Homo sapiens: one gene and its partners. The protein of the gene in region 4 interacts with the protein of the main gene of each other region in a pairwise test. Each region holds a gene or a part of one and is shown on either strand. Other genes may lie near its edges. The genes, in order: PKHD1, GET3, OCIAD1 and CAMLG.

Region 1 (7,132 bases), on a different chromosome or scaffold from region 4:
CAGAGGAGGTAGAGCAGTGAATCAGACAATGTTTTGAACTTCAATCTTCTATTGTATCTTAAATTTCCCATTGTGGACTCTATCTCTCTTCCATAATGTGTTTATATACATGATGATAATAGGAAACTCAATTTCTAGCATTTTAACAAAAATTTTTTTCTCCTCCCCTTCTTCTTCCTCTTCCCTCTTCCCCCTCCTCCTTCCCCTCCTTCTCCTCTTTGTATAAGACAACACAGCACAAATTTCCATCACAATAGCATTATCCATCATTAAATTCTCATCCAAGCTCAGATGATGTGGTGCTTTTATCATTTTGTAAATCTTTAGCCCACATTCAAGTTGCAGACAAATAAATTAGGAATAAAACTTAAACACTACACAGAAAGGAGGTATGTAAACGGTTAAGTGCACAGGTACAAGATTTATGATTAGGCAAATAAGGTAATCACCTGGCTAAATGTGAGCTATCTCAAATGTAGTAAGGTCCTGTAGTAATAACAGTAATTTCTTCCTTTTGACTTTATTTCCTGAAGCTCAGTGGGGTATTACCATGTGTTGTGAATCCCCAAGCTTTGCAACTTACTCTCTCATCTCTTTCCCCACAAAGACACGGCTTCTCATACCACAATTTATATGATCACTACGCAGCTTAAAGTAGTGAGCAATTGTGGTGTTTTACTGAATAAGAAATAAGTAATTATGTGAGTATTGCAAAACAAGAAGACAACATGAGTGTTGGCTCTTTTGCCTATAATAAGAAACCGAAAACTGAACACACAAAGCTAATTTTCAAGTGATATCCAGCTTGAAAATCTCCATCCCTTTACTGGTACCTCCAATAAGCAGATGTCTTCAGCAACCTCACCTCAGAACAAAGCCAAGAGCTTGTTTCCTCCATGACTCCTATAGCTGTCATTGAAACTAATATTCAGAATTCAGAATTACTTCCTCTGTCATCCTAAGACTGCAGTTAAGAACACAGGTGATAAGTGTTTCAATATTCATCTAACATTGACATATTAATATGACAAAAGTTATGATGAATCATTTTAACAGGTGGCCTCAGATTCTAACTATCATTTTAGATGAGGAGTAGAGAAATTCTTTTCCTAGGCACACATAGAGAAATTAGTAGTCAGTACAGCATTAATCACAAAAATAGAATTAACCAAAGAATATCATTTCCATATATATGCTTTAAAATATATGTGTGTGGCATCTTTACTCACCATCCAGGGGCAGAACCAAGCAGCTGAAGGCAGACACTGTAGCATTAGCCAGGACTCGGCAGGGAGCACCACACACAGCAGCTGAGACATTCCCTGGAGAAAATCCCGCTCCAAACACATGCACCAGCCTTCCACCCAGGCAGCCTTTAAAGACAAAGGTACAAGTTCTTGATCATACAGGCAAATCTCCCTTCTTTACTCAACTCAAAATTCAAACATTTGCTTCCTCACTACCCATTCTTCTTTTCACATCCTCAGAATCCGCACAACTGGCTTGAGGTGGCTGCTGGCCTCAGTTTCCTCTCCACTTAGGCTCTGGCCTTGTCTGACTCCAATCACATTCAATATCCTATTGTGTTAAAGAGGTTTTTTTTTAATGTAACAATTTTTATATGGAAAATTAATGCTTATTTATAGTTTTTAAACTTTTTATTCAAAGAGCCATAAAATGAAAATAAAAATTCCCCCAACCATCTGACTCCCTCCCCGGAGGTACCCAGGTATAGAGTTTCTTATGGCTCCTTCCAGAATTTTTAAGCATCTATGTTTCTGATTCAAAGCATTATTCTATCCATATTATTCTGGAACTTGCTTTTTTGCTTCAAAGTATAGCATAGATGTTTTTTCAAAACTCTATGGATCCAGTTCATTTTAGTAGCTACTTAGAATTCCATTATAGGGCCCTGCTACAATTTATTTGACAATTTTCCTATTTATTGAAATTTCCATTTTTTCTCCTCTTTTGCTATTGTTAATAGTGATGCAATAACTGTACATGTTTTGGGACATTTGTATGAGTAAAACCAGTCCACATTTCTAGTTTACACTGAGATACAGAGTTCCCCTCACTACTGCCTTCATACCAGGTCTAGGTGGTACTTAGCCACTTGACTAACTCAAAAATAATGCTTTTGGTTTAAGATGCATTTCTTATTTCCCTGCTCTTCCATCATAAAAAAACATGGAATCTTAGGGAGTAGTGCCTTTATCAAATAAGGAAGCTGAGTCTCAGAAAAGTCAAGCATAAATTAGCAAAATTAGTGATAGACTAGAGCCAAATCCTAGTCCCCACAGTGTTCCACCAAGCTGAGACCAAATTTTTTCTAAGAAATGTCTTAGTTAGTACTCCAACAGTCTAAGATTCTGTTTCTATAGTTTTTTTCCTTACTTTCTAAATCACAACCAAATTTGAACTATCTCAAGTGCAACAAGGCTTTAAGTGAATAGAAATTGAAAGCTTTTCTTCACTGGAGGGAAAGGCTAGGCAATTTTTGGTATATCTAAACGGAGAAAACAGTCCAACCAATTTAATTGTTCTGTGCATTTGGCTTATTATTGTTGAAATATGAGTCCACCTGTGAAATATTACAAAATGATAAAAATTTAATCATACTTAATAAATTTTAAACAACGCAAATTGGCAGATAGGGTCTAAAACTAGGTGAAGGCATTTACGTTCTTAAATGATCAAATTATGAGCTCTTACAAATGGTGTTATTTAATTTAAAATACAAATCCAGTTAATGCATCAAATTAAAATACAATCAAACATTTAGAGAATATGCACAGTTTCCTTGATAAAAATAAAAAAAATCTTCATAAACAGAGCATAACAAAGACAAGCCTCAGGAAGGAATTGGGATTGTAAGAAGCCAGTGGGCTTCTCTTTCCTTCCATCAGGCAGATTGTGTTAATTTTCTACTTTCCAGAAGTGAAAGGAGCTACCAATTCATTTACATAAAGAAAGTGTGCTGTCTTATTTGCTTGACTTACCGAAGTTCTCCGTCACTGCTGTAATAATAACTCTTGAGGTGAACACCAGGGCAGATGAGGCCCACCCTCTGATGCAGTCATAGCCTCTGACGTGGTACTCCCCGGCCGGAAGGGAAGGGACCACGCACTGAAGAACGGTGTGGTTACCAGAGACACCCACACAGGGTGACATTCCTATAAAAATGTCAATGTTTGCAGCTCCTGAGATCTGGGCCACTGCAAAGGTTAAGATGTCATCGCTCTGAGAAATAGAGATCAATTCTGGGGTAAAGGCCTTGTTATAACCAATGACTCCTATGTGATACCAAAGTCCATCTACCTCTATTTCCAGGGCAACAGAGCCATTCCCTGTGGGAACAATGCACCGGATGAGCTCAGCACCGATGTTCACCGTCAGGCAGGTCTGCTGGTCAATATAGACTGACGTGGTGTTCTGTCCTCTCAGGCCTGTGCCCTCTATGGTCAAGAGGCTTCCACCATGTAAGCTGAAATTCTTAGGAAAATAATGAAACACTTGGGGCATAATGTAGAAGTGTCTGGAAACATTACCAGAACAAGCATACCCATTTCTTGTATAAAAAACTGACAGGTAGTGGGGTCCTGGGGCCAAGTCTCTTGTCTGGCACACAACGTGGCTTGCATTAAAAAAAGTTACATTGCAAGGAAGTTGATCATCCACAAATACCATCGGCTCATCAGCTGTGGTGGCTAACCTCTGACCCCTAATCAGCACAGTGGTCAGAGACCCACTGGTGTTTGTGGACAAGGCATCCATGACAGGACTTGCCTCTTCCCTTATGAAAAGAGTGCAATTCCCCTGACACTCGCTGGTTAGCCCATTGACCAGGACTGTGACGTTCAGGGAGAAGGAAGCTCCAGGCAAGGGGTCACCCTCCAGGCTAACCTGGCAGAGAATGGTGTGGTCTCCCAAACTCAAAATCACACAAGTAAAAGGACCCGAGAGGTCAACCCGAACTGACCTCCTTCTAGAGTTAAGAAGCAACCCCCTCACAGTAAGTATGGTCCCACCACATGCCGAACCCTGCGATGGGAAGATGGCCATTATCCGAGGCATCACTGCAAATTGCTGGAGCACCACAGACATATTAGCAAATCCCATCTGCTTCTGACGTACTTGGAGAGGATAGATGCCAGCCTCCAGACTGTGAAGAGGGATGGAGCATCCAGACAGGCTCACGTTGCCCTGGAAGGACTGTGTCTCAACATCACAGTTCAGGTTCCCCAGAAGGATGACTGAGTTGGAGAGGTTACTTCCTCCCACATGCAGGCTCAGGCTGCTATTTGTGATTTCTCCTTGCATGGCAGTGACTACTGGTGTTGCTGCCGCTTCATACATGAAGGTGAAGCCTTTCCCCACCAAGCTTGGTGAAGGACCACGGGCGAAGAACCTGTTGCCAGCCCAGACCTCCACGGCAGCTGGAACAGTGGGAGCGCCCGCATCGGGTATCTGGGGGGCTGGCAGGGTTTCACACCAGATGCTCGCCTCCGTTAAGTTCACAATGTCACAGGACCGATTGCCCACAAGTACCCAAACCAAAGCTGGGTCCCTGCTGAAGCCTATTCCTGAGATGCTGAGGATGGTCCCTCCTAAAGTATGAATACGGAAAGCAAAATATTATAGCTGATATTCTGAACTAAGAATTCATAGCACCTGTGGAAGTCCTAGGTCAATTAAGTGGAAGGTAGGGCATGTGTTAGTGAAACCTCAATTATTTTTTCTCACCCCCACCAAAGCTAAATTTGTGATTATTTAGACAGGAGTCAGATGTGGTAAATTCACATAACAGTAAAATAATACAAATTGTTATATAGGAAGGACGTCTTCAACACAAACTTTTCAAGTACCTTTGTATATCCCAGAAGCCACCACTTTAATCAACTTACACACTAATGAAAAATCAAATTTCTTAGTCTTCTTATCATGTATTATATTATTGGAAATATTATCCTGTATGCTATATATAGACTATTTGTACATTGTCCTGTATACATTCAACTTATATGCTAATGAAAAATCAAATTCATTGAAGTCTTCTATCATTTATATTGTTCTATATAATATTCCAATATTCCATATATTATACATTCTAATATATTCTATTTATTGTACCATATATTCTATATTCCATATACGTGAGAGACATTAAAAGTCATTGAATCTTGCTGGTGAATTTGCTGCTACCTTCATAGAATCTTTGCCTTACTCTCCAGTAGAGAGGCCACCAAAGATCAAACCCCATCTTCAGGACAGGATTGGAGCAACATGACCCACAGCATAACCAAACTGTACAACGTGGCTTTTAAGAGGATTTTACTATACCCAAAAAGGATAATGTGCTATCTTACACATGATCACAACTATTATTGACATGCCACTAGATTGTTTTCCATTCTTTCTGAAAATAGTTTTAGAGATTGGTCTATTTGTCTTGTTCTTCCATCTCCCATATCAGCATGTGTGTTTCTATTTCTGAGTCTTTCATCTGTCTCTCTCATGGAAAGTGAAGACCCGCAGATTCAATCCTCCCCTCCTTGCATGCACAGCATCTAAATGGCGAATGCAGGACATGTTGCCCTTGTTTTTCTCATATCCACTCTAGAGTGTCACCCATCAGACGTTTCATCCTCTTTTCATTAGAAAAGCAGGCACATCTCGGCTGGGCACGGTGGCTCATGCCTGTAATCCCAGCACTTTAGGAGGCCGAGGTGGGCAGATCACCTGAGGTAAGGAGTTCAAGACCAGCCTGGCCAACATGGTGAAACCCCATCTCTACTAAAAATAGAAAAATTAGCCAGGCATGATGGAGGGCACCTGTAATTCCAGCTACTTAGGAGACTGAGGCTGGATAATTACTTGAACCCGGGAGGCAGACATTGCAGTGAGCCAAGTCAGCACCATTGCACTCCAGACTGGGCAACAAGAGCGAAACTCCGTCTCAAAAAAAAAAAAAAAAAGAAGAAGAAGAAGAAGGAGAAGAAGAAAAAGAAAAAAAAAAGAAAAGAAAAGCAGGCACATCTCCTTGTCATAAAAATTCCTTAATTTCCTGAGCAAATGAATCACCAAGTTTTAACACCCTTTTAAAAACACCCCTCAGTTCCTGGAGCCCGAGGAAAGTTTCTCTCCTGTTTCCCCTCTCTCTGACCTCACTGGCAAATTAATCCAGAAACAAAATCTGAATATCCAGCAAATAGAATTGCTGGATAATTGATAACAGTCACATAAGAGCCACTCACCCAGCAGGGACCCACAGCAAGGCTCGATGCTGAAAACTTCTGTGAGGTACTGGATGTGGAGATCAACCCTACAGAAGATAGGCAGATGTTTAGGAAATAACTGACAGAGAGAGATAAGAAAGAGTAAGCCAGAAGAGCCATATGTATTTTGAGGAGAAGAGCAAACTGTCTGTAAGTTCTCTAAGATTTGTTCCAATGTTATGATGTTCATGTCTTTAACCTCTAACTTCCAAGGGAAAAAGAAAATACCTAACTCAAAATTAGAATTACCTAGCTGAATGCTAGACCATCAAACAAATCCAAAATTAATGCAAGTGGTCACCTCACCCTTGTGAGTGAATGCTGACCCCATTGATAGAGACGGAAATTCTGTGGAGACCAGCTGGCAGTGGGGGCAGTGCCACCTCCAGGCCCCAAGCCGACTGTGTGTGAACCGGAGCCAAGGCATCCTGGACGTGGACTTCCACATCCAAATCCGTATAGTTCATCAGCCTCGCCACTCCAATGACCAGGGTCTCACCGCCTGTGTTGAGAAGAATCCAATAGCCTCTGACATGTGGGGTTTGTGGGCTCAACCATCTATTCAATTCTAAAACTGTCTTTTTGGATTAAATTCACAGTCACCCCTATGCATAATACTCTTAAGAGTTACGATACCAACCTAAATTTTTCAAGAAACTTCTAACAACTATTTTTTTTTTTTTTTGAGACAGGTCTCATTCTGTCACCCAGGAGTGCTGTGGTGCAATCTTGTCTCACTGCAGCCTCAACCTCCAGGGCTCAAGCAATCCTCCCAACTCAGCCTCCCAAGCAGCTGGGATTACAGGCATGTGCCACCACACCCAGCTAATTTTTGTATTTTTTGCAGAGACAGG
Region 2 (7,132 bases), on a different chromosome or scaffold from region 4:
GTGTGTGTCAATCTTGCACTTGGCCAGCTCCTGGATCAGCCTCTCTGTCTCATACAGGGACAGGAACTCAGCAATGCATACGCAGATGAAAGTTGTCTGCTCCTACAGGGCACGAGAGAGGACAGTGAGGGGCGGGGTCTGCCCCTGTCCTCAGCCCCCGGGCCTCTCACCGCCAGCCAGACCACCACTCACAGGGTCCTTGAACTGTTCGCTGACTGAGCGGATGACGGGCAGCGTCTCCTCCAGCTTGGAGGCCAGCTGGTCTGCGTTCATGTCCCCCAGGCCCAGCATGTTGCACATCTGCAGGGGGGATGTGGGAGGGCTCATAGCTTACCTGCGGCGACCTCCTGGGTTGGGGGTTCACTAAACACCCGAGGGATGACTCCTGATACCTCCCAGTGGTTAAAGGCTCAGGCCCATAAGCAGATTCCTGGGGTTGGTCAAATACTAGCTTTTCCATTTCTTTCTTTCTTTTTTTTTTTTTTTTGAAATGGAGTCTCACTCTGTTGCCCAGGCTGGAGTACAATGGCGTGATTTTGGCTCACTGCAACCGCCGCCTCCTGGGTTCAAGCGATTCTCCTGCCTCAGCCTCTTGAGTAGCTGGGATTACAGGCGCGCACCACCATGCCCGGCTAATTTTTGTATTTTTAGTACTGGTGGGGTTTCACCATTTTGGCCAGGCTGGTCTTGAACTCCTGACCTCAGGCAATCCACCTGCCTCGGCCTTGCGAAGTCCTAGGATTACAGGCATGAGCCACTGCGGCCGGCCTCAGCTTTGCCATTTTTAGGGAACCATAGCTAAGGGGCTTGACCCTCCTGGAGCCTCAGTTTCCCCATCTCTAAACTTTACCTCCCAGATCTGTTGTACCAGATGAGCTGAAGCATATAATGTGCTGAGAATAGTGTCTGGCACACAGTAAGTGCTCAGTGTTACCACCTGAGGCACAGGTCCCCACAGGGGACACGCACACACCCACACGTGCACATACACCATGGTGGGTGGTGCTGGTGGTGTGCAGCACTGTGGGGGCTTTAGGGTTGTCATCGTAATAATAACCCATGGGGGCTGGGCACAGTGGCTCATGCCTGTAATCCCAGCACTCTGGGAGGTCGAAGTGGGTGTACTGCTTGAGGCCAGGAGTTCAAGACCAGCCTGGGCAACATGGCAAAACCCTATCTCTACAAAAAGTACAAAAATTAGCTGGGCATGGTGGTACATGTCTGTAGTCCCAGCTACTTGGGAGGTAGAGGCACGAGAATCACTTGAACCCACGAGGTGGAGGTTGCAATGAGCCAAGATCGCACCACTGCACTCCAGCCTGGGTGACAGAGCGAGACTCCGTCTCGAATAATAATAATAATAACCCATGGGGCACTCTCATGATCTCCATTTGCAAGACAAGGAAGGTGAGGCCCAGAGAGGTGAAGTGATTTGCTTGAGGTCACACAGCAGTTGGGTCACATGGTGAGTGTAGAGGGTTTGAAGGCAGGTTGCCTGGTTCTGGAATGTGCTTTCTGGCTCTGTCTAGGGTATTTAGCGGGCAGGGGCAGGGACACTGAGTCCTGCCTGTGGGGGAGGAAAGACAGCTCCGTCCCATCCCCTCCAGGGAGAAGTCCAGAGTGAGAAGGGGTGGGAAGGAAAGGGAATTGTTAGTGCGCATTTGAGGGTCTGGGGGCCCGGGCCTACTCCCACTCCCGGCTGCCTGGATGGTGCAGGTGGGGGCCCCCGCCGCCTGCCTGTGAGATGAAAGGGCTGATCTGGTTCTTGATCTGCATAAGCCGGCCCAGGCCCCGCTCCACGATGGTGGGGAAGTTGAGCAGCCTCAGGGTGTGGCCCGTGGGTGCCGTGTCAAATACCACCACCGAGAAGTTCATGCCCTTCACCAGCCTGAGGGGAGACAGGGGTCAGGCCCTCTGTGTCCGCTCTTCCCCTTCCCCAGGCAGCCCCCACCCCTGCTGGCTGGGCCTGACCTCATGACCTCGGCATAGCTCATGGCCTCATCGATGCCGGGAAATGCGCTCATGGCCTCCTGCATCATCTTCTTGCCCATGCTCAGCATGTTGTCCTCCTCGAAGAACTCGTCAGGCAGCTCCGCCACGCCCAGGCTGGGGTCAATCTCCTGGGGGCCAAAGGGATGAGACTGAGGTTGCTGCTACTGCTGGGGGAGCCTTCCCACCTGGGCACAGGGCCAGGGGGAGCCTTCCTACCCGGGCACAGGGCCAGAGGGAGCCTGTGGTGGGCTGTGACCACAGGCATTTCATTAGGTCACGGCTGGGGGGACCCTGAGGTAGTACTTAGGGTTTTGTATGGTTGCATAAAGGGTCAAAAACAAGGGGAAAATTGCAAGCTGTGCCCAGGGCCCTCAAAGGGAAGCTGAAACCCACTGCGGGCCATTTACACTGCTACTCCCCACTTGCAACCTGCCACTTGCAACCCCAGATACTCCCATGACTGGGCCATGACCTCTTCCGGATCATCATCCCTCCACTGAGAGACTCCCTGACCACCCTAAGTAACAGCACAGATCCACCGACACCCCTGCCCTGCCTTCCTTTCTCCTTAAGGTTTAGCCCTTAGGAGCTGGGCAGGATAGCTCACGCCTGTAGTCCCAGGTACTCAGGAGAATGAGATGGGAGGATCGCTTGAGCCCAGGAGTTGGACACCAGCCTGGGCAATATAGCAAGACCTATCTGAAAAAAAAATTAGCCCTTCCTCACATCCCTCATGATTCCCTTATCATGTTTATCATCTGTCTCCATAGCAGGAATGTCTGCCCCTCAGGGGCAGGGGTTTTACCATCTAGTTCACTGCTGTGTCCTTAGCGCTTAGCATGAACAGTGCCTGGCACAGAGGTCGTCAGCACATATGGGGAATCCAGCCAGGCGCGGTACCTCATGCCTGTAATTCCAGCCCTTTGGGAAGCGGAGGCGGGCAGATCACCTGAGGTCGGGAGCTTGAGGCCAGCCTGGCCAACATGGTGAAACCCCGTCTCTACTAAAAATACAAAAATTAGCCATGCATAGTGGCGGGTGCCTATAATCCCAGCTACTCTGGAGGTTGAGGCAGGGGAATCGCTTGAACCCGGGAGGCAGAGGTTACAGTGAGCCGAGATCACGCCATTACACTCCAGCCTGGGTGACAGAGGGAGACTCTGTCTCAAAAAACAAACAACAAAACAAAACACAAACATGTATGTAGAATCTATGAAGGGATGGCCATGGCTGGGGTCCCTGGCCAGTCTCAGACTCAATGCCTCCCTCTTTTTTTTTTTTTTTTCCCGAGATGGAGTTTTGATCTTGTTGCCTAGGCTGGAGTGCAGTGGCGCGATCTCAGCTCATCACAACCTCCACCTTCTGGGTTCAAGCAATTCTCCTGCCTCAGCCTCCCGAGTAGCTGAGACTATAGGCATGCCCCACCATGCCTGGCTAATTTTTTTTTTTTTTTTTTTTTTTGAGATGGAGTCTTGGCCGGGCGTGGTGGCTCACGCCTGTAATCCCAGCACTTTGGGAGGCCGAGGCAGGCAGATCACCTGAGGTTAGGAGATCGAGACCATCCTGGCTAACACGGTGAAACCCCGTCTCTACTAAAAATACAAAAAATTAGCCGGGCGAGGTGGCGGGTGCCTGTAGTCCCAGCTACTTGGGAGGCTGAGGCAGGAGAATGGCATGAACCCCAGGGGGCGGAGCCTGCAGTGAGCTGAGATCACGCCACTGCACTCCAGCCTGGGCGACAGAGCGAGACTCCATCTCAAAAAAAAAAAAAAAAAAAAAAAAGAGATGGAGTCTCGCTCTGTCACCCAGGCTGGAGTGCAGTGAGTAGCTGGGACTACAGGCGCCCGCCACCACACCTGGCTAATTTTTTGTATTTTTAGTAGAGACGGGGTTTCACTGTGTTAGCCAGGATGGTGGCGATCTCCTGACCTCGTGATCCACCCACCTCGGCCTCCCAAAGTGCTGGGATTACAGGCACGAGCCATCACGCCTGGCCATGCCTGGCTAATTTTTGTAATTTTTTTTTTTTCTGAGATGGAGTTTCACTCTTGTTGTCTAGGCTGGACAATGGCGTGATCTTGGCTCACTGCAACCTCCGCCTCCAGGGTTCAAGTGATTCTCCTGCCTCAGCTTCCTGAGTAGCTGGGATTACAGGCATGCGCCACCACCCCAGCTAATTTTGTATTTTTAGTAGAGACGGGGCTTCTCTATGTTGGTCAGGCTGGTTTTCAACTCCCAACCTCAGGTGATCCACCCACCTCAGCCTCCCAAAATGCTGGGATTACAGGTATGAGCCACCATGCCCGGCCAATGCCTCCCTCTTTATCTTCCTCCTCTGTCACCTCTTCTTGGTAACTTCATGGGTCCCATGGGGAAGTACCCAACTCGCTGGCCTTAGGGGTCATTCCCTGTTGGGGAGCTTGCCCACTCATCACTGCACCCTCTTCTTATGCTTCATATATTTTAAGCTTCTTTGGACTACTTCATCCCCTCACCTGGCCCCTGTAAACTGTCAGTGTTCCTCTTGGCTGGCACCCTTATCCAGCCCAGCCTCCACAGGTTCCCTCTGCAAACACTCCCTTTCCCCTTGCTGTTGGCAAAATCCCCCACTCTGGTTACTTCCAGCTTTTTTTTTCTTTCTTTTAGAGATAGCGTCTTGGCCGGGCGCGGTAGCTCACACTTGTAATCCCAGTGTATTAGGAAGCCAAGCCAGGCAGATCATTTGAGGTCAGGAGATTGAAAACAGCCTGGCCAACATGTTGAAACCCCGTCTCTACTAAAAAAAAATACAGGCCAGGCGCGGTGGCTCACGCCTGTAATCCCAGCACTTTGGGAGGCCAAGGCGGGTGGATCACGAGGTCAGGAGATCGAGACCATCCTGGTTAACATGGTGAAACCCCGTCTCTACTAAAAATACTAAAAATTAGCCGGGCATGGTGGCATGCACCTGGAGTCCCAGCTACTCGGGAGGCTGAGGCAGGAGAATCACTTGAAATCGGGAGGAAGAGGTTGCAGTGAACCGAGATTGCGCCACTGCACTCCATCCTGGGCGACAGAATAAGACTCCGTCTCAAAACAAACAAAAAAAACCCCCCCAAAACAAAAATTAGCCGGATGTGGTGGCGGGCGCCTGTAATCACAGCTACTTGGGAGGCTGAGGCAGGAGAATCGCTTAAACTCAGGAGGTAGAGGTTGCAGTGAGCTGAGATCACACCACTGCACTCCAGCCTGGGTGACAGAGTGAAACTCAGTCTCAAAAAAAAAAAAAAAAAAGATACCATCTCATACATAGCTCATTGCAGCCTCAAACTCTTAGGCTCAAATGATCCTCCTGCCTCAACCTACCAACTTACTGGGACTATAGGCACACACCACCATGCCCAGCTAATTTTGTTTGTTTTTTGTAGAGAAAGGGTCTCCCTTTGTTGCCCAGGCTGGTCTTGAACTCCTGACCTCACGTGATCCTCTTGTCTCAGTCTCTGCAAGCACTGAAATGATAGGTATGGCTTTCTAGCTCTTTAGTATCACTGCACTTGAGGGCCGAACACTCCTGAAGAGTATTCCCATCTTGCTCCTCACCCTTTTGGAGACGGAGTCTCGCTCTGTCATCCAGGTTGGAGTACAGTGGCACAATCTCGACTCACTGTGACCTCCGCCTCCCAGGTTCAAGCAATTCTTTGCCTCAGCCTCCCGAGTATCTGGGATTACAGGCGCCCACCACCAGGCCCAACTAATTTTTTTTTTTTGAGATGGAGTGTCGCTCTGTATCCCAGGCTGGAGTGCAGTGGCATGATCTCGGCTCACTGCAACCTCCGTCTCCCAGGTTCAAGCAATTCTCCTGCCTCAGCCTCCCGTGTAACTGGGACTACAGGTGCCGGCCACCACGCAAGGCTAATTTTTGTATTTTTAGTAGAGACGGGGTTTCACCATATTGGTCAGGCTGGTCTCGAACTCCCGACCTCAGGTGATCTGCCCGCCTCAGCCTCCCAAAGTGCTGGGATTACAGGCGTGAGCCACCGTGCCTGGCTTATTTTTGTATTTTTTTTTTTGAGATGGAGTCTTGCTCTGTCACCCACGCTGGAGTGCAGTGGCGCGATCTAGGCTCACTGTAAGCTCCACCTCCCGCGTTCACGCCATTCTCCTGCCTCAGCCTCCCGAATAACTGGGATTAAAGGCACCCGCCATCACGCCCGGCTAACTTTTTGTATTTTTAGTAGAGATGGGGTTTCACCCTGTTAGCCAGGCTGGTCTCAATCTCCTGACTTTGTGATCCGCCCACCTCGGCCTCCCAGAGTGCTGGGATTACAGGCGTGAGCCACCATGCCCAGCTAATTTTTGTATTTTTAGTAGAGATGGAGTTCCACCATCTTGGCTAGGCTGGTCTTTAACTCCTGACCTTCTGATCCACCTGCCTCAGCCTCCCGAAGTGCTGGGATTACAGGCATGAGCCACCACGCCCGCCCTTGCTCCCCTCTTCTGAACACAAATCTCCAATGGGCACTTGATGATCCAGACAATTCTGGTTCCCCCTGCTACCTTAATAAGTGTTTATGTGGTATTTTCTCCCTCCTCAAACTTCTATCCCATTCACTGCTGAGACCCTTGCCTGTTCCTTGGTGAGAAAGAGAAGCCATTGGCTGCCAACACCCTCATCTCTGCCCGGGAAGTGCCCCAATTCCTCCTGTTTCCCTCCCAGTCCCTGACCCTGGCAGCGCCCAAGTTCTGGGTCTGTATGCTGGATGGAGCTCATCCCACCTGAGGACTGTCCTCTGCCAGCATCCTCACTCTGCAGCATCTCTTTATTTTATTTTATTTTTATTTATTATTTTTTGTTGAGTCTCGCTCCGTTGTTCAGGCTGTAAAGCAGTGGCGCGATCTCGGCTCACTGCAAGGTCCACTTCCCGCGTTCACGCCATTCTCCTGCCTCAGCCTCCGGAGTAGCTGGGACTACAGGTGCCCGCCACCATACCTGGCTAATTTTTTTGTATTTTTAGTAGAGATGAGGTTTCACCGTGTTAGCCAAGATGGTCTCAGTCTCTTGACCTTGTGATCTGCCCGCCTCAGCCTCCCAAAGTGCTGAGATTACAGATGTGAGCCACCGTGCCCGGCCTTTATTATTTTTTTGAGACAGAGTGTTGCT
Region 3 (8,088 bases), on a different chromosome or scaffold from region 4:
AGAGACAGGGTTTCGCCGTGTTGGCCAGACTGGTCTTGAACTCCTGACATCAAGTGATCCGCCCATCTCAGCCTCCCGAAGTGCTGGGATTACAGGCATGAGCTACTGTGCTTGGCCTCCCTCCTATATTTTCTTTTTTTTTTAAATTATACTTTAAGTTCTAGGGTACATGTGAACAACGTGCAGGTTTGTTACATATGCTTACATGTGCCATGTTGGTGTGCTGCACCCATTAACTCATAATTTAGCATTAGGTATATCTCCTAATGCGATCCCTCCTCCCTCCCCACAACCCACAACAGGCCCCAGTGTGTGATGTTCCCCACCCTGTGTCCGAGTGTTCTCATTGTTCAATTCCCACCTATGAGTGAGAACATGCGGTGTTTGGTTTTCTGTCCTTGCGATAGTTTGCTGAGAATGATGGTTTCCAGCTTCATCCATGTCCCTACAAAGGACATGAACTCATTCTTTTTTATGGCTGCATAGTATTCCTGGAATACTATATTTTCAATTCTTCTCTTTAGTGGTTCTTTCCCTTTGCCAATTACAATTAAAAGCCTATGGAATTAAAAAACAAAAACATTGAGGTAATGAATATGCTAGTTACTCTGATTTGATTATTACACACTTACATATTTCAAAATATCATGTTGTACCCCATAAATATGTACAATTATTATGTCAATTAAAAATCATAAAAGCAAAAACCCAAAACAAAAAATAACCTTCATCCATTTTTATTTTTTCCTCCAGCTACCACTCTATCTTGCTTTCTCTAAACAGCTAAACTTCCAGAAAGAGTAATGTACACTTTTCCTCACATTATCTCCAATCACTCTTTTCTCAACCCATTGTAATCTAGATTTTAATAAAACTACACTTGCAAAAGTTATAAATAACCTTTTTATTGCTGCATGTAATGGATAGTTCTCCATCCTTACCAGCATTTGATATAATTGACCATTTCTTCCTTCTTAGAAGATTCTTTTCCTTTGGCTTCTATGACACTACATTTTGAATAATAAATATGTGTTAAACTAGATAGTCTGGTGAACTAATAAAACACAAGTTCTGCTCTAATGGAACATAAATAGAAATATGCTGAATAATAATTTATTGAATAATGATTGCTTGAATAATCGCTGAATAATTATCAATTATGGAAGTTCAAGCGTTCATTTGAAAATAAATCTTTTATTGACACTGAAATGAAGTAGAAGTTCACTACATTGATTTCATTTATATACATTAATGAGTATAAATTATCCCTTTATTATTAATTTTTTTAAGTGATGTCTAATAAGTGGAAATTTCTTATGGTACATTTCATTAGATCTTAACTCAATGGAGGTATCATGAAGACTGTTGATTTAATTTAATCCAGGTGGATCGATTTCTGGTGATCTCACCATTCCAGATTAGAACACATTAGTCTGAGTTGGCTAATAAATCCTACAGCCCATCTCTAGCAAATGTGTATCGACTTCCCGCAAGTCTTTGGATCTTGCCCAATTTATGTTTGAATTCTTTGATTGTTGCATTACCCAAATTACCAAAAGACTCAATAACCTCTAAATGCCAGCACAAATGCAAAGTGACAGTTTACTTGAATGTTTTAGAATCCTATATGTTCCCACAGAAGGAGCTCATAGTCTTTTATCAACAGAAACTCAATTTATTGATTAATTGCTGAGAAATTAGGGGGCAACAGAAAATAGACTTATCAATCTACCATGTGCTATTGCAGGCACGTGGCGTGGGACTGGCGGGTAGCTCCACCTGCAGCCCCGGCATGGGATCCACTAGGTGAAGCCAGCTGGGCTCCAGAGTTGGGTGGGGACTTGGAGAACTTTTATGTCTAGCTGGAGGATTGTGTATGCACCAATCAGCACTCTGTGTCTAGCTCGGGGTTTGTAGATGCACCAATCAGCACTCTGTATCTAGCTACTCTGGTGGGGACTTGGAGAACTTTTATGTCTCACTAGAGGATTGTAAATGCACCAATCAGCACTCTTTGTCTACCTAAAGGTTTGTAAATGCACCAATCAGTGCTCTGTGTCTGGCTAATCTAGTGGGGACTTGGAGAACTTTTATGTCTAGGGAAAGGTTTGTAAATGCACCAATCAGCACCCTATGTCTAGCTCAAGGTTTGTAAATGCACCAATCAGTGCTCTGTGTCTACCTAATCTAGTGGGGACTTGGAGAACTTTTGTGTCTAGCTAAAGGATTGTAAATGCACCAATCAGCACTCTGTGTCTAGCTCATGGATTGTAAATGCACCAATCAGCACCCTGTCAAAATTGACCAATCAGCTCTCTGTACAATGGACCAATCAACTCTCTGTACAATGGACCAATCAGCAGGATGTGTGTGGGGCCAGATAAGGGAATAAAAGCAGGCCTCTTGAGCCAGCAGCGGCAACCCACTCAGGTCCCCTTCCACACTGTGGAAGCTTTGTTCTTTTGCTCTTTGCAATAAATCTTGCTGCTGCTCACTCTTTGGGTCTGCACCACCTTTATGAGCTGTAACACTCACTGTGAAGGTCTGCAACTTCACTCCTGAGGCCAGTGAGACCATGAACCCACCTGGAGGGATTAACAACTCCAGACGGGAGGAATGAACAACTCCAGATGCACCGCCTTAAGAGCTGTAACACTCACTGCGAAGGTCTGCAGCTTCACTCCTGAAGCCAGCAAGACCACGAACCCACCAGAAGGAATAAACTCCGAGCATGTCCGAACATCAGAAGGAACAAAGTCTGGACACACCATCTTTAAGAACTGTAACGCTCACCGTGAGGGTCCGCAGCTTCATTCTTGAAGTCAGTGAGACCAAGAACCCACCAATTTAGGACACACTATGTGTTAGGCCTGGCTCAGTAAGTATAAAGAATATGATAAAACTGGATTCTGGAATCTTACAATCTAGTCAGGAAGCAAAGAAAAAGACTTTGCTTTAAAGTTGGTGCAGTGGCTCATGCCTATAACCCCAGCACTTCGGGAGGCCAAAGTGGGCAGATCACTTGAGGCCAGGAATTGGAGACCAGGCTGGTAAAGTAGTGAAACTCTGTCTCTTCTACAAATAAAAAAATTAGCTGGGCGTGGTGGTGCACACCTGTGGTCCCAGCTACTCAGGAGGCTGAGGCACAAGAATTGCTTGAATCTGGGAGGCGAAGGTTGCAGTGAGCCGAGATGGCACCACTGTACTACGGTCTAGACAATAGAGCAAGGCCCTGTCCTAAAAAAAAAAACAACAAAAAACTTTGCTTTAACATAAAGCTCACCACCTAGAATGTCTTCTAATTTTTTTATTTTTGTTTCTTCTAGAATGTCTTTTAATTTTCTTATTTTTGTTTTTTCTCCTATAAAAATGCATTCAACAAATTCATTTAAGAAATATTTGTTGGCTTCATATGATCATGTGCCAATCACTGATGCTAGGCAAATACGGCTCCTACTGTCATAGACCTTTTTAGTGAAGAGAGACAATACACAAACAAATCATTGTTTTAGACCATAACAAATACTATGAAAACAATAAGCAAGGTAACATGGAGAGTGACTGGGGTGCCATGTTAATTGGGTGGTCAAGGAATGCCTCTCTGATGTGGTGACATCAACTGAAGTCTCAGACAAAAAGCCACGTTGAACATCTGGAAGAACAGTGGTCTAGAAGAGGGAACAGCAATTGCACAAGCCCTGGGCCCAGAAGTAAATTAGCTTGTCCCAGGAACAAAATGAGTATTAGTTACTAATACTGATTATCTCAGGGATTTATTTGGTTCTATAAAGACTTACAAGCCAACATCTCTGTCCTAAAGGAGCTCTGTAACAGAGACAGACGTAAGTAAAAAAGATCACTATTCAGTGCAAAAGTACATTGCAGTGACAGCAGTATGGACAAGCTAAGGACTAAGAAGGAAGAGTGATTACTTCTCTGGGGTGTATTTCAGGGAAGGCATCACAAAGGTGGTGATGTAAAAGCAGAATTTTGAAATATCGTTAGAATTGACAAAGCAGGGAGTAGAGTTGTACTGGGGAAACAGTGCACAGAGAACACTGAGGGCAAAGACCTCCAGGCTGTTTCTTGTTAGTGAACCCTGAAATAGAAGAAAGTGACGCTCAAAAGGCACAGGCACCACCAGGCCATGATGGGCCTTATATTCGGTGCATGACTGGAGCTATCAAAAGACTCCAAGGAAGGAAACACAGCGTTGGATTCGTTTCACGTGACTGTCTCCCTTAAGTATGTCTTCGGGAGAATAAATGTTAAATGATAAAGTGGCAAAGGGGCTCAGAAAGAGATGAGAAACCTGAGAGGCTTTGAGGGGTTGACAAATAGTAGGACTGGATTTGCCCACTGTTTAGTCACTAATAACTTGCAGTACATGGCACTAATAAATACTTCAGGAAGGAATGTATGAAAATGAGTAAAATGCTGATTGGCTGGGTGTGGCAGCACCATGTCTGATGTGTAGAAGTCGTGAGCCCCCTCATTAATAGACAGTGATGTGTTGTTTTAATTCTAACAACCCTATATGTAATTCCACTTTTCAGGTGAGAAAAACCGTAGCCTCAGAGAGATCACGGTACCCTGCCAGAGGTTGTAGAACTTGTTGGAAACTTGGATCAAGAGGGTGTGACAAATAACCAGGTATGCATGCTTAAAAATTACTTTCTACTACTTAGCCTACAGGCTCAAAGAATGAAATTATCTCATAAAAGAGATAATTTATAAAGTCGCTCTCAAAAGAGGGACAACAGAGGGTTCCGGAACGTTCCCGCCAGCCGCCACGAGAAGACCAGAGAGGTGCATCACAACAGCCCAAAGTCAAGCCTACTCCCAACCCCCTTCCCCGCCATCCAGGGAAGGGGCGGGGCAGGGTTCTTGGTCCGCCGCTGTCGCCTGCGCAGTCGCAGTGCGGCTCGTGGCCGCAGCTGCCTGAAAGGGCAAAGGGACGAGTATACGCATGCGTCTATTCCTAGGCTGCTGGCTCTCAGACCCGCAGTGAGGTCTGACGTCATTTCCTGCCGTAAGTATACAGTGCCTCCGGGTCGCGGTCATTTTGAGCCCCTGTCTGGATGACTTCTTGCGGCTGTTCTACCCCTCCCCCTCCCCGCGGTACCTTGCACTTTTCTCCCTCCCTGCCCCCTCTCGAGTCCACCCTCCGGGCCTTCTGCCCCTGATCGCTTGGTTTTCCTTGCAGTCGCCTGCTGCTGTCGTCGGGAGGTGGGTGAGGTGACGCAAACAGCCCCGTTGTTGCCCTCCGCGTATCCCCTCACCACCTTTGCGGCCATCCACGACTTTCGCACCTTCCGCCATTTTCCTGCCTGTGAGGGTGGACAGATCGCGCTCGGGTCTCGGCCTCCTGAGTGCCGGTGACTGCGGGAGGCGACGGAGTGCTTCTGGGGGTGTGAGCTGGGGAAGTTCGTGGTCACGGATGCGTGTGGGGTTGCTGCTCAGTCTGTAACGGCAGGTGGGAGACGGACACTGGGTGGAGGATGGAGTGCGGTAATCAGCGGTTGTAGGCCGCTTAGGCTTTAATCCAGCGTTGTTTTGTGTAAAGAACTTAAAATGGTATTGTCTTAAGCGCCGTGTCAGCCCTGACAGTCTTCCTGGTGTTTCTAGGAAGGATGCCGTTATGGGAAATAAGAGGGTTTCATTTTTTCTCATACGGTTGTAGGGTAAAGGTAGTTTATTCAGCAGGCTCCATCCATCCATGAATTCAGCTGACCTTTTTTATTTCTTTTCTCTAATTAAGGGGTTGGCATGTAGTAGGCCTTCATGGCTTATTGACTGAATGAATTATGGAAGGGCTCAGTTGCTGTCCTCATTGTGTATGCCATTTCCTGTTTCCATGCAAATTGTTTTTAAAATGAGAATAATCATGATCCCACGTAAACGTTCTGTAAAATACGGTTACTTGATCTGTTGGTCTGAGTCCCAATATATGAGTTTTTAAAAAAAGAACCAAATAAAAAATGTATATTCTTGGAATTTTATGCATTTTTTTCTTATATTCTTGGGGTGGAAGGAAATTTGGAGATACAGAATTTGCTGTTAGTTTTACCTCACAGGGAGAAGGATATGTCGTCTTTGTTATTCCATAATTTTGGAGTGCTCCTTTGTGGGAGAGGTTGAATGTTTCTGATGATTATTTCATTTTTTAATATGGAAGCTCAGAAATGACTTGAAATTTTTTTTCTCTTCTATTTTGGGGAATTATCCTAATCATTGGGCATAGATTCGAGAAACGACCAAAACATAGGATGTGAAAGAACCCACTTCCAGGAGGAAAAAATATGTCTGTTATTTTATTGATATCTTGATAGTAAAAAAAATTATAAACTTATAAAACGCATATGCTTTTTCAATTAAGGGACTTAACCTGAATAGTGAGTTCCAAATTAATCAGTAGGTCTGTTACTTTTTCATCTAGCTATTTACATGTGGAGTACGTAAGATATAGTAGTGTTTAATAAATATTTGTTGATTGATTGCTGTGTAGACTAGTAGTTTTACTATATCATACGTCTTGATTTACTTTGACCTATCTAGTGATAGTTTCTAATACTTAATATGTAATGTTTTTGATACAGGAAAGATGAATGGGAGGGCTGATTTTCGAGAGCCGAATGCAGAGGTTCCAAGACCAATTCCCCGTAACTATCTATTAAGTATTTATAATTAGAAGCACTTCCTATGTAAAGGAATTTTCACTGCCTTGAGTAACAGTGGCAGGTGGGCTGGCTTCATGGGCATGTGCAGACAGCGCCCCATACTTGGTTTCATGTTCTAGTCTTGTTATCTTGAAATTCATAATCATTTGGATAAGGAGTCCCACGTTTTTATTTTGCACTGGGCCCAGCACATTAGGTAGCCAGTCCTGACTAGCAGATAGTAGCATTAATTCTATTTGAAGTCAAAGTTTGTTGAAAGTGTATAAGTGGCCTGGCTCGGTGGCTCATGCCTGTAATCCCAGCACTTTGGGAGGCTGAGATGGGTGGAACACCTGAGGTCAGGAGTTCGAGACTAGCCTGGCTAACATGGTGAAACCCCGTATCTACTAAAATACAAAAAATTAGCCTGGCGTGGTGATGGGTGCCTGTAATCCCAGCTACTCGGAAGGCTGAGGCAGGAGAATCGCTTGAACCCCGGGAGGTGGAGGTTGCAGTGAGCCGAGATCGCGCCATTGCACTCCAGCCTGGGCAACAAGAGTGAAACACTGTCTCAAAAAACAAAAAAAGTGCATAAGCCAGTTGTTTTATTATTTGAGTTTAAAAAATGGGTGCCTCTTGTTAATGTTTAGGCTAAGATAATTTTTCAGACCTAGTTTTATTATGGATAATTTAATGTTTTCTGATTTTCCCTGGTAAAAAGACATAGGGCCTGATTACATTCCAACAGAGGAAGAAAGGAGAGTCTTCGCAGAATGCAATGATGAAAGCTTCTGGTTCAGATGTGAGTTCAATTTTCTAATTAATATAATTTGATCCAAAATTTGTACCTGAAATTTTGACTTGAATTTGAACCTGAAATTATAATAACTCCGTATAGAACAAATTGGCAAACTTTTTGCATAGTGTGGTTGTTGTTAAAAGAGATTAAGGAGATAAAGGAATTGCACACATTTTAAAGTAATTATTTCCAGATTTTTAACAAAACCATGAGGTAATTTTGTTGATAATAGTAATAGTTAGCATTTACTGTGTGTACATAGATTATATAAAAACAACCCAATAAGGTTGATAACTATTATTACCCTCACTTTACAGGTGAAGGAATTGAGGTTTAGAGATGTTAAATGGCAACACTTAGTGTTACACAGGTGATAAATTACGATGTTTGGAGTTGAAAACAGGTCTGTCTGAAACAGATTTTACTCTTAATGCTTTTAACCATTATATAATAGCAGATTAGTTCCCATTTTATCATTGTGAAATGTTGTTATACTACCAGCTCTTGATTTCTGATTAAAGAAATATATATATATTTGTGTATATATATATATCAAGATTGTATTTTTTAAATACAGAGATTGTTGGAAGCAGTATACAAAATATACTCTCACTATTTAACAAAGAATTG
Region 4 (7,810 bases):
AATAATTTACAGATCTTTTCTTACCAAGTATTTGCAAACAAAAGCTCTGACTCCAAGAGCAAGAAGAGCACATCCCACCAATCTAAATATTCGAAAAGAGTCAAATTCTTCTGTTGTATTTCCATCCTCTTGACTGGGTTTTTCACTAATCAGCTGTTTCCTTAGCTTCATTGCTTCTTCGAATCTGGAAAGGTACTGCTCTAGGCCATGGCGGGAACCCCTCTGGACCGAGTCCGCTGTCAGGTCCCCTCTGTTCCGCTGCCGGAGCTCAAGGTTGACATCACTACTGCACTCAGGTGGTTTAATGAACGAGTCCAATTTGTCTCCCAGTTGGGTCCCCTTTACCTCGGCCACACCACCCTGCTGGTCAGTTGTTCCTGTACTGACTGAATCACCCAGCACTACTCGCTTTGAAACGGAAGGAACGCTGAGGGAGTTCAGTTTATCACTGTCCTGCTGCTTTGATTTTGTTTGACTTTCTTCTTCTGAGAAAAGAAATGTAAAAGCCTTATGTATTTATTCCATACTGGCAAACACCTTACATGTTTATGTTTTAAAATATGCTGTTGCAGCTAGAACTCAGCAGCCTCTGCATCAAAATAAATAAATACCGATTCTGCATTAAAGAAAAGCTGGTTTCGGCCAGGTGCCGTGGCTCACGCCTGTAATCCCAACACTTTGGGAGGCTGAGGCGGGCGGATCATGAGGTCAAGAGATTGAGACCATCCTAGCCAACATGGTGAAACCCCGTCTCTACTAAAAATACAAAAATTAGCTGGGTGTGGTGGCGTGTGTCTGTAGTCCCAGCTGCCTATAGTCCCAGCTACTCTGGCTGAGGCAGGAGAATCACTTGAAACCCGGGGGGAGGAGGTTGCAGACACTGCGCCACTACACTCCATCTGCATCTGCCTGGCGACAGAGTGAGACTCCATCTCAAAACAAAAAAAAGAAAAAAGCTGGATTCTTCCTCTACACCCTCAAAATGTATCACCCAAAATGAATATTCTGCAGAGGAAATAACCCAAACTTTGTGGGTAGGAGATAAGATTAGTAGACAAACTGGGAAAGATATTCAGAGATGGAGCAAGCTGAAAAGACCAACTTTTTATGGATAATATATCCCAGATGTATGATTGCATTGCCTGCCTTAGCTTATTTGGTTAAAAATATAAAATCAGTAAAGCCTTTTAAAATCTATATTTTAAAATTAGATTTCTGAATCCAGTGCCCTATGAGCATAGGGTGTGGCATATCCCAAAGCTACTGTTTATGTAGTCAGGCAGCCATTAGTAGGCACTTCAGCAGTTTTAAGACACTACTCTGGGGTTTTGTTTTTGTTTTTGTTTTAAAAAAAAGGCCAGGCACAATGGCTCACACCTGTAATCCTGTAAGCCCAGCACTTTTGGAAGCCAAGGCTGGTGGATCACTTGAGCCCAGAAGTTCCAGACCAGCTTAGGAAACATAGTGAGACCCCCCCATCTCCACACACACAATTTTTTTTTAAATTAGCCAGGCATGGTGGTGTACACCTGTGGTCCTAGCTACTCCGGAGGCTGAGGTAGCAGGATTGCTTAAGCCCAGGAGTTTGAGGCTGCAGTAAGCTATGATCATGCCACTGCACTCCAGCCTGGCCTACAGAGGGAGACCCTGTCTCAAAAAATAAAACAACCTTTAAAGACATAAAATTTTCAAAGCAAAAGAACAAAATATAGAAAGTACCTCAGGTAAGATCATAAATAATGCTTTAAGAATAAATAGCCCGATAGAAAAATGTTTCTTCTATTGTTCTAGAAGAATTTGAAATGGTTTTCTTACCTCTCATTTGAACTGCCTAAAAGTTCAGAGCTATACACCTAAAGCCTTACAGAACAAAAGTCACAAAGATATAAGGAGCTTGCGACCAGTGACTAAAGGCCAATTACTAAAGGAAACACTGGAAACTTAGATAACACTAGGGCGCGCTAATTGCTCAATTATACTCACGTGAAATAAATTTTTTTTAAAGAAAATCATTGGACATGTGTTTGGGGGAGGAAGGAGGCGCTCTCCTTAGAAATGCAGCTCCAGACATCAATCACAACAATATCCCCTCATGAGGAGAGGAAACTCTCAGGTGTGCACTTCGCACTTGCTGGGTCTCTGAAGAATGCTCACTCTCACTTTTCCCACCTTTTCTAGCCGGCCCGTAGGTGACAGTGTTGACGGCACTGAACACAAACACTAGGATATGAGCACAAGAGTCCCTGATACACGTAGGATGAACTAGCGGGCAGTTCAGTAAAGACAGGCTGATGTGGGCGGACAGGAGTTACACAGCAAAAGGCAAAAGAAGGTAGACGCTAGAGAAGGCACTGTAAGGAAAAGCACTTGGAACCTTAAGAAGGAAAGCCATCTTCCTAAGGGGAGCAGTAGACATGACAGTCTGGGGATACAACGTGCGCCCTTCAAGAAAGGCGAGGAGTGGCTAAGGAAAAAAGGGGCTGTTCAACGTAACTGGGAAGAGGGAGTGAGAGCTCTGCAGGCAGGGTGGGGAAAATCTCACGGCGAGGCCCCGGGAAAATTGAGGGGAGCGACTAGGAACATCCTGGGGTTCAGGGATGAGAACTTGGGATATCACCGAAGGGGCGGGACAGAGAGGAAATCAAAGAGCAAGGCTTGGTCAAAAAGGTCAGAGGAGTGGAGGTGGGAGAGGGAAGAATGACCCTGAAGATTCAAGGTGATGGGCGGGAGACTGAGGGGAAATCGAGGCTCTTACCCGCGCCGCTCCCGGGCCTGTGAAAGCCCATGATCCGGTTGATGCGCTGTTCCGAGTTCATGAGCAGCTTTCTCCGACGCAGCTCCGCCCGACGCTGGGAAGCCGACAGACCTGAGCCCGCTGGGACCCCCGGCCTCTCCCCGCCGTCGGTAGCGACGGCCATCGACTCCATCCTCCCGTCCACAGTCTGGGAGGGGTGGCAGTGGCGGTGATGTTGGCCGCCGCTGCGAGGGCGATGACTAGAGGCCGGGCCGCAGGGCGCGCGTCCCCTTCCCACTATAGACCCGCCCCCGAGCGCGGTCCCGGAGCCTGTGAGCTAAGCACTCACGCACCGCCCCACGCGACCAAGCGCGAGGCTCTGGCCGCCATCTTGAGTGAGGGCAGCGCTGGACGCCCTCGTGCCTCCCCAACTCTTCTGGCCCTCACCCAACAGCCCCCTCTGCTGTTCACTCGGAGGTGAAGAAAACCAGCACCCAGGGCCGGGAGTGGTGGCTCACGCCTGTAATCCTAGCACTTTGGAAGGCCGAGGCGGGCGGATCACGAGGTCACGATTTCGAGAGTAGCCTGGCCAACATGGTGACCCCCTCCCCCCTCCCCCCACCCGTCTCTACTAAAAATACAAAAACTTAGCCGGGCGGGGTGGCGCGCGCCTGTAATCCCAGCTACTCGGGAGGCTGAGGCAGGAGAATCTCTTGGACCCAGGAGGCGGAGGTTGCAGTGAGCCGAGATCGCGCCACTGTTCTCCAGCCTGGGCTACAGAGCGAGACTCTGTCTCGAGAAAAAAAAAAAGAAAGAAAAGAAAACCGGGAGTGGGAAAGGGATGGCAGTAAGTAGGTCAGCCTAGATTTGGTGCCAGGAAGCAAAATGGAGGTTGCAGCGGCAGTCGCTTGTTTACAGACCCGCGGCCTCGCCTGTAGGCAATGGGAATACGTAACCCTGGGAGCCGCACTTAAAGGGAGCCTTACGCTGGGATTTGTTCTTGGTGCCTGTTCCTCATCCTTAACTTCTCTACGGCAAAGTATACGGCTGATGTGTTCCTAGGCTTTCCTCGCGTTTTGTGCGTTTTTATTCAAATTAGAATTTCCCATTGAAACCTTTCGTGCACATTCTATCTAAATTGCCAACACTCCCCATTCCCCTTCACCTTGTTTTTTCTCCTTGTCGTTCATGACCACCTCGCATGCTAAAGATGCTCCAGCCTGGGCGACAGAACGAGACTCCGTCTCAAAAAAAAAAAAGGAAAAGAAAAGAAAAAAACAAAAAGGCCGGGAGCGGTGGCTCACGTCTGTAATCCTAACTTTGGGAGGCCGAGGCAGGCGGATCACCTGAGGTCAGGAGTTCGAGACCAGCCTGGCCAATATGGCAAAACCCCGTCTCTACTAAAAATACAAAAATTAGCCTGACCTGGTGGCATGCACCTGTAATCCCAGCTACTTGGGAGGCTGAGGCAGGAGAATCGCTTGAACCTGGGAGGCAGAAATTGCAGTGAGCCGAGATCATGCCACTGCACTCCAGCCTGGGCGACAGAGGGAGACTCCGTCTCAAAAATACATATATAAAAGAAATAAATAAAATAAAATCAGAACAAATGACTGGGCGCGGTGGCTCATGCCTGTAATTCCAGCACTTTGTGAGGGCTGAGATGGGTGGATCACTTGAGGCCAGGAATTCGAGACCAGTCTGGCCAACGTGGCAAAACCCTGACTGTACTAAAAATACAAAAATTAGTCGGGCTTGGTGGCGTGTGCCTGTGGTCCCAGCTACTTGGGAGGCTAAGGTGGGAGGATCACCTGATCCTGGGGAGGTTGAAGCTGCAGTGAGCAATGATCGGGCCACTGCACTCCAGACTGGGTGACACAGTGAGACCCCATCTCAAAAAAGTTTTTTCAGAAAAAAATAATATATTTGCTATATTGTAATGGATCCAGTCTGGATTATAGTCATCATTAATAGCAATACAGTCATAAAATATAATTTTAAGTATGTTTTCAGGCAGGAAGGAGCCACAAAGGCAAAAGAGCTTAGGGCCCTTGAAAGTCATAATGCAGCCTTGGCATTCAGTAATGACTTACTAAGTGAATGATTAGATGAATGAAGGAATTGAATCCATCAACCCTTGCTAACAGGGAGCATGGCCAGTTCACACCTGAGGCTGAGGAGGGTTTTGAAGCAGCTTACTGGGTGGGCCCCCTGCAACTAAGCCTGCCACACAATCACCCTCAAAATAAGGAAGTGGGTGAAATACCACTTAGAAGATAATAAAATACTATATTTATATTAATACTGAAAAAGAAGTGAAAACAAAAGAAACTTCGGTTTGGATTCAACAACATAAGGAGCTCAAAGAATATACAGACTGAACTTTCACCCTTGATTGGATGAAAGTTAAATCCCAGGGACATCCACTAGTTAATAATTTTAAAGTATTAGAGGAAGTTCTTCTGCATATCTGCACAGACATAGATCTCTGAGCCCTAGACTTCCTTAAAACAATTTTACACACAACTGAAAATAATGGAAATAACTGTCAAATAGTAACAAATGTGCAGAATTTGATGAGGCACAGCCCTGATCAATCAAGACGGTTCCAGAAAGGGTTTGAGGAGCTAAATTAGAATTATAGTGTTATATTCAATGATATAAGCATCAAGCAAATTATTTCCAAGTAATATTTCATTCCTCCTTGAAACTGAGGAAGCCGTATAACTGAACTTGAACAGAATTATAAAAAATGTCTGGGCTGGCATGTGGGAGGTCCAGGCAGGAGGATCACTTGTGGCAAGGAGCTCAAGACTGACCTGGGCAACATAGTGAGACCCCCTTCTCTATTTAAAAACAAAGAAAAGAGATCGGGAGGCCAGGTGCGGTGGCTCACACCTTTAATCCCAGCACTTTGGGAGGCTGAGGTGGGTGGATCACTTGAGGTCAGGTGTTCGAAACCAACCTGGCCAACATGATGAAACCCATCTCCACTAAAAATACAAAAATTAGCCAGGCATGGTGGCACACACCTGTAATCCCAGCTACTCGGGAGGGTGAGGCAGGAGAATCACTCAAACCCAGGAGGCAGAGGTTGCAGTGAGCTGAGATTGCACCACTGCACTCTAGCCTGGGCGACAGAGTGAAACTCTGTCTCAGAAAAACAAAAAAAAAGAGTCCAGGCGCAGTGGCTCACACCTGTAATCCCAACGCTTTGGGAGGCCAAGGTGGGAGGACTGCTTAAGCTTAGGAGTTCAAGACCAGCCTGGGTAACATAGTGAGACCTCGTCTCTAGAAAAAAAAAAAAATCAAAAAATTTAAAAAAATTTAAAACGAGGCAGGAAGTTTGCTGCAATGAGCCATGATTGCATCACTCCACAACCACCTGGGTGATAGAGCTAGACCTTGTCTCAAAAGAAAAAGAGTAAAAGAATGAATTGATGAAACTGCTTAAAAGAAATTCAAGAACAATTTTCAGAAATTAGCAAATTACTTCCTCTAAATTCCATAATGAGTCAAATTTTTATTTTTATAAACACAGGGTCTTACTCTATGGCCTAGGCTGGAGTGCAGGGGCACAATCATAGCTCACTGCAGCCTACAGCCTTGAACTCCTGGGCTCAAGCAATCCTCCTGCTTCTGCCTCCTGAGTAGCTAAGGCTACAGGATTGAGCCCAGATAATTTTTTTTTTTTTTGAGATGGAGTCTTGCTCTGTCGCCCAGGCTGGAGTGCAGTGGCGCAATCTTGGCTCACTGCAAGCTCCGCCTCCTGGGTTCAAACCATTCTCCTGCCTCAGCCTCCCAAGTAGCTGAGACTACAGGCGCCGGCCACCACACCCGGCTAATTTTTTTTGTATTTTTAGTAGAGACGGGGTTTCACCGTGTTAGCCAGGATGGTCTCGATCTCCTGACCTCGTGATCCGCCCGCCTTGGCCTCCCAAAGTGCTGGGATTACAGGCATGAGCCACCGTCCCCGGCCGAGCCCAGATAATTTTTTAAAAAAAATTTTTTGTAGAGATGGGGTCTCTATGTTGCTGGTCTTAAATTCCTGGGCTCAAACAATCCAATCTTCTCAGCCTCCCAAAGTGCTGGGATTACAGGTGTGAGCCCCTGGACCCAGCCAGAAATTTTATTTCAATAATTTTCTCAAGTATAGTTGTTAAACACCCTTAAACACTCAAAGTTTAAAAGAAACAGAGTGAATTAACAGTTTCAATAGGAGACATGTCAATAGTCCTCTCCTTAATGAGAATGGAGCTTAGTATAACAAACTGAAAGCCAAGTAATGAACCTCATGAAATAAATGTAATTTTAGATGGTACTGAATATTTTGTTTTACAGTATTTATTTATTTATTTACTCTGTCGCCAAGGCTAGAGTGCAGTGGTGCCATCTCTCGGCTCAGTGCAACCTCCACCTCCTGGGTTCAAGCTATTCTCCTGCCTCAGCCTCCTGAGTAGCTGGGATTACAGGCGCGCACCACCATGCCCAGCTAATTTTTGTAATTTTAGTAGAAATGGGGTTTCCGCATGTTGGCCAGGCTGGTCTCCAACTCCTGACCTCAGGTGATCCACCTGCCTCGGCCTCCCAAAGTGCTGAGATTACAGGCGTGAGCCACCGCGCCGGGCCTATATTAACTTTTAGTATGTTATAAACACTGCAAAACAGGCCGGGCATGGTGGCACACGCCTGTAGTCCCAGCTACTTGGGAGACTGAGGCACGAGAATCGCTTGAACTCAGGAGGTGGAGGTGGCAGTGAGCCAAGATCATGCCATTGCACTCCAGCCAGGGTGACAGAGGGAGACTACGTCGCAAAAAAAAAAAAAAAAGTTAATATAAATGTGTGGATGTTGCCGTGGTTTGGGACAAAATCATTTGGCTCCTTGGATAATGTTACTCTCCGATGTTACCCCAGGGTGACACTGATGAGGATTTCTGCTACTCTAGGAGAGTGGCAATTTAAGGTTTCTGGCCTCCCTTGCTCAGGCAGTCCCCATGCTTTTTTTTATTCTTTGAGACAGAGTCTCCCTCTGTTGCCCAGGCTGGAGTGCAGTGGCTCCAACGGGGCTCACTGC

The links.
Region 1: the proteins of CAMLG (region 4) and PKHD1 interact in binary tests that used the Homo sapiens proteins (3 or more experiments, as listed by UniProt).
Region 2: the proteins of CAMLG (region 4) and GET3 interact in binary tests that used the Homo sapiens proteins (3 or more experiments, as listed by UniProt).
Region 3: the proteins of CAMLG (region 4) and OCIAD1 interact in binary tests that used the Homo sapiens proteins (3 or more experiments, as listed by UniProt).

Annotation. Positions count from the first base shown.
Region 1 is NC_000006.12:52,021,572-52,028,703, forward strand, and holds part of PKHD1 (fibrocystin), read right to left. Parts: intron 6,781-7,132; coding exon 6,585-6,780; intron 6,326-6,584; coding exon 6,258-6,325; intron 4,611-6,257; coding exon 3,003-4,610; intron 1,374-3,002; coding exon 1,230-1,373; intron 1-1,229.
Region 2 is NC_000019.10:12,740,365-12,747,496, reverse strand, and holds part of GET3 (ATPase GET3), read right to left. Parts: intron 2,121-7,132; coding exon 1,972-2,120; intron 1,889-1,971; coding exon 1,738-1,888; intron 301-1,737; coding exon 193-300; intron 103-192; coding exon 1-102.
Region 3 is NC_000004.12:48,826,021-48,834,108, forward strand, and holds the start of OCIAD1 (OCIA domain-containing protein 1), read left to right. Parts: upstream 1-5,067; 5' UTR 5,068-5,081; coding exon of another isoform or gene 5,082-5,121; 5' UTR 5,122-5,229; exon of another isoform or gene 5,230-5,501; coding exon of another isoform or gene 5,502-5,511; intron 5,512-6,599; coding exon of another isoform or gene 6,600-6,604; coding exon 6,605-6,662; intron 6,663-7,380; coding exon 7,381-7,461; intron 7,462-8,088. UniProt on the Homo sapiens protein: Maintains stem cell potency. Increases STAT3 phosphorylation and controls ERK phosphorylation. May act as a scaffold, increasing STAT3 recruitment onto endosomes. Involved in integrin-mediated cancer cell adhesion and colony formation in ovarian cancer.
Region 4 is NC_000005.10:134,733,738-134,741,547, reverse strand, and holds the start of CAMLG (guided entry of tail-anchored proteins factor CAMLG), read right to left. Parts: upstream 3,001-7,810; 5' UTR 2,928-3,000; coding exon 2,756-2,927; intron 486-2,755; coding exon 25-485; intron 1-24. UniProt on the Homo sapiens protein: Required for the post-translational delivery of tail-anchored (TA) proteins to the endoplasmic reticulum.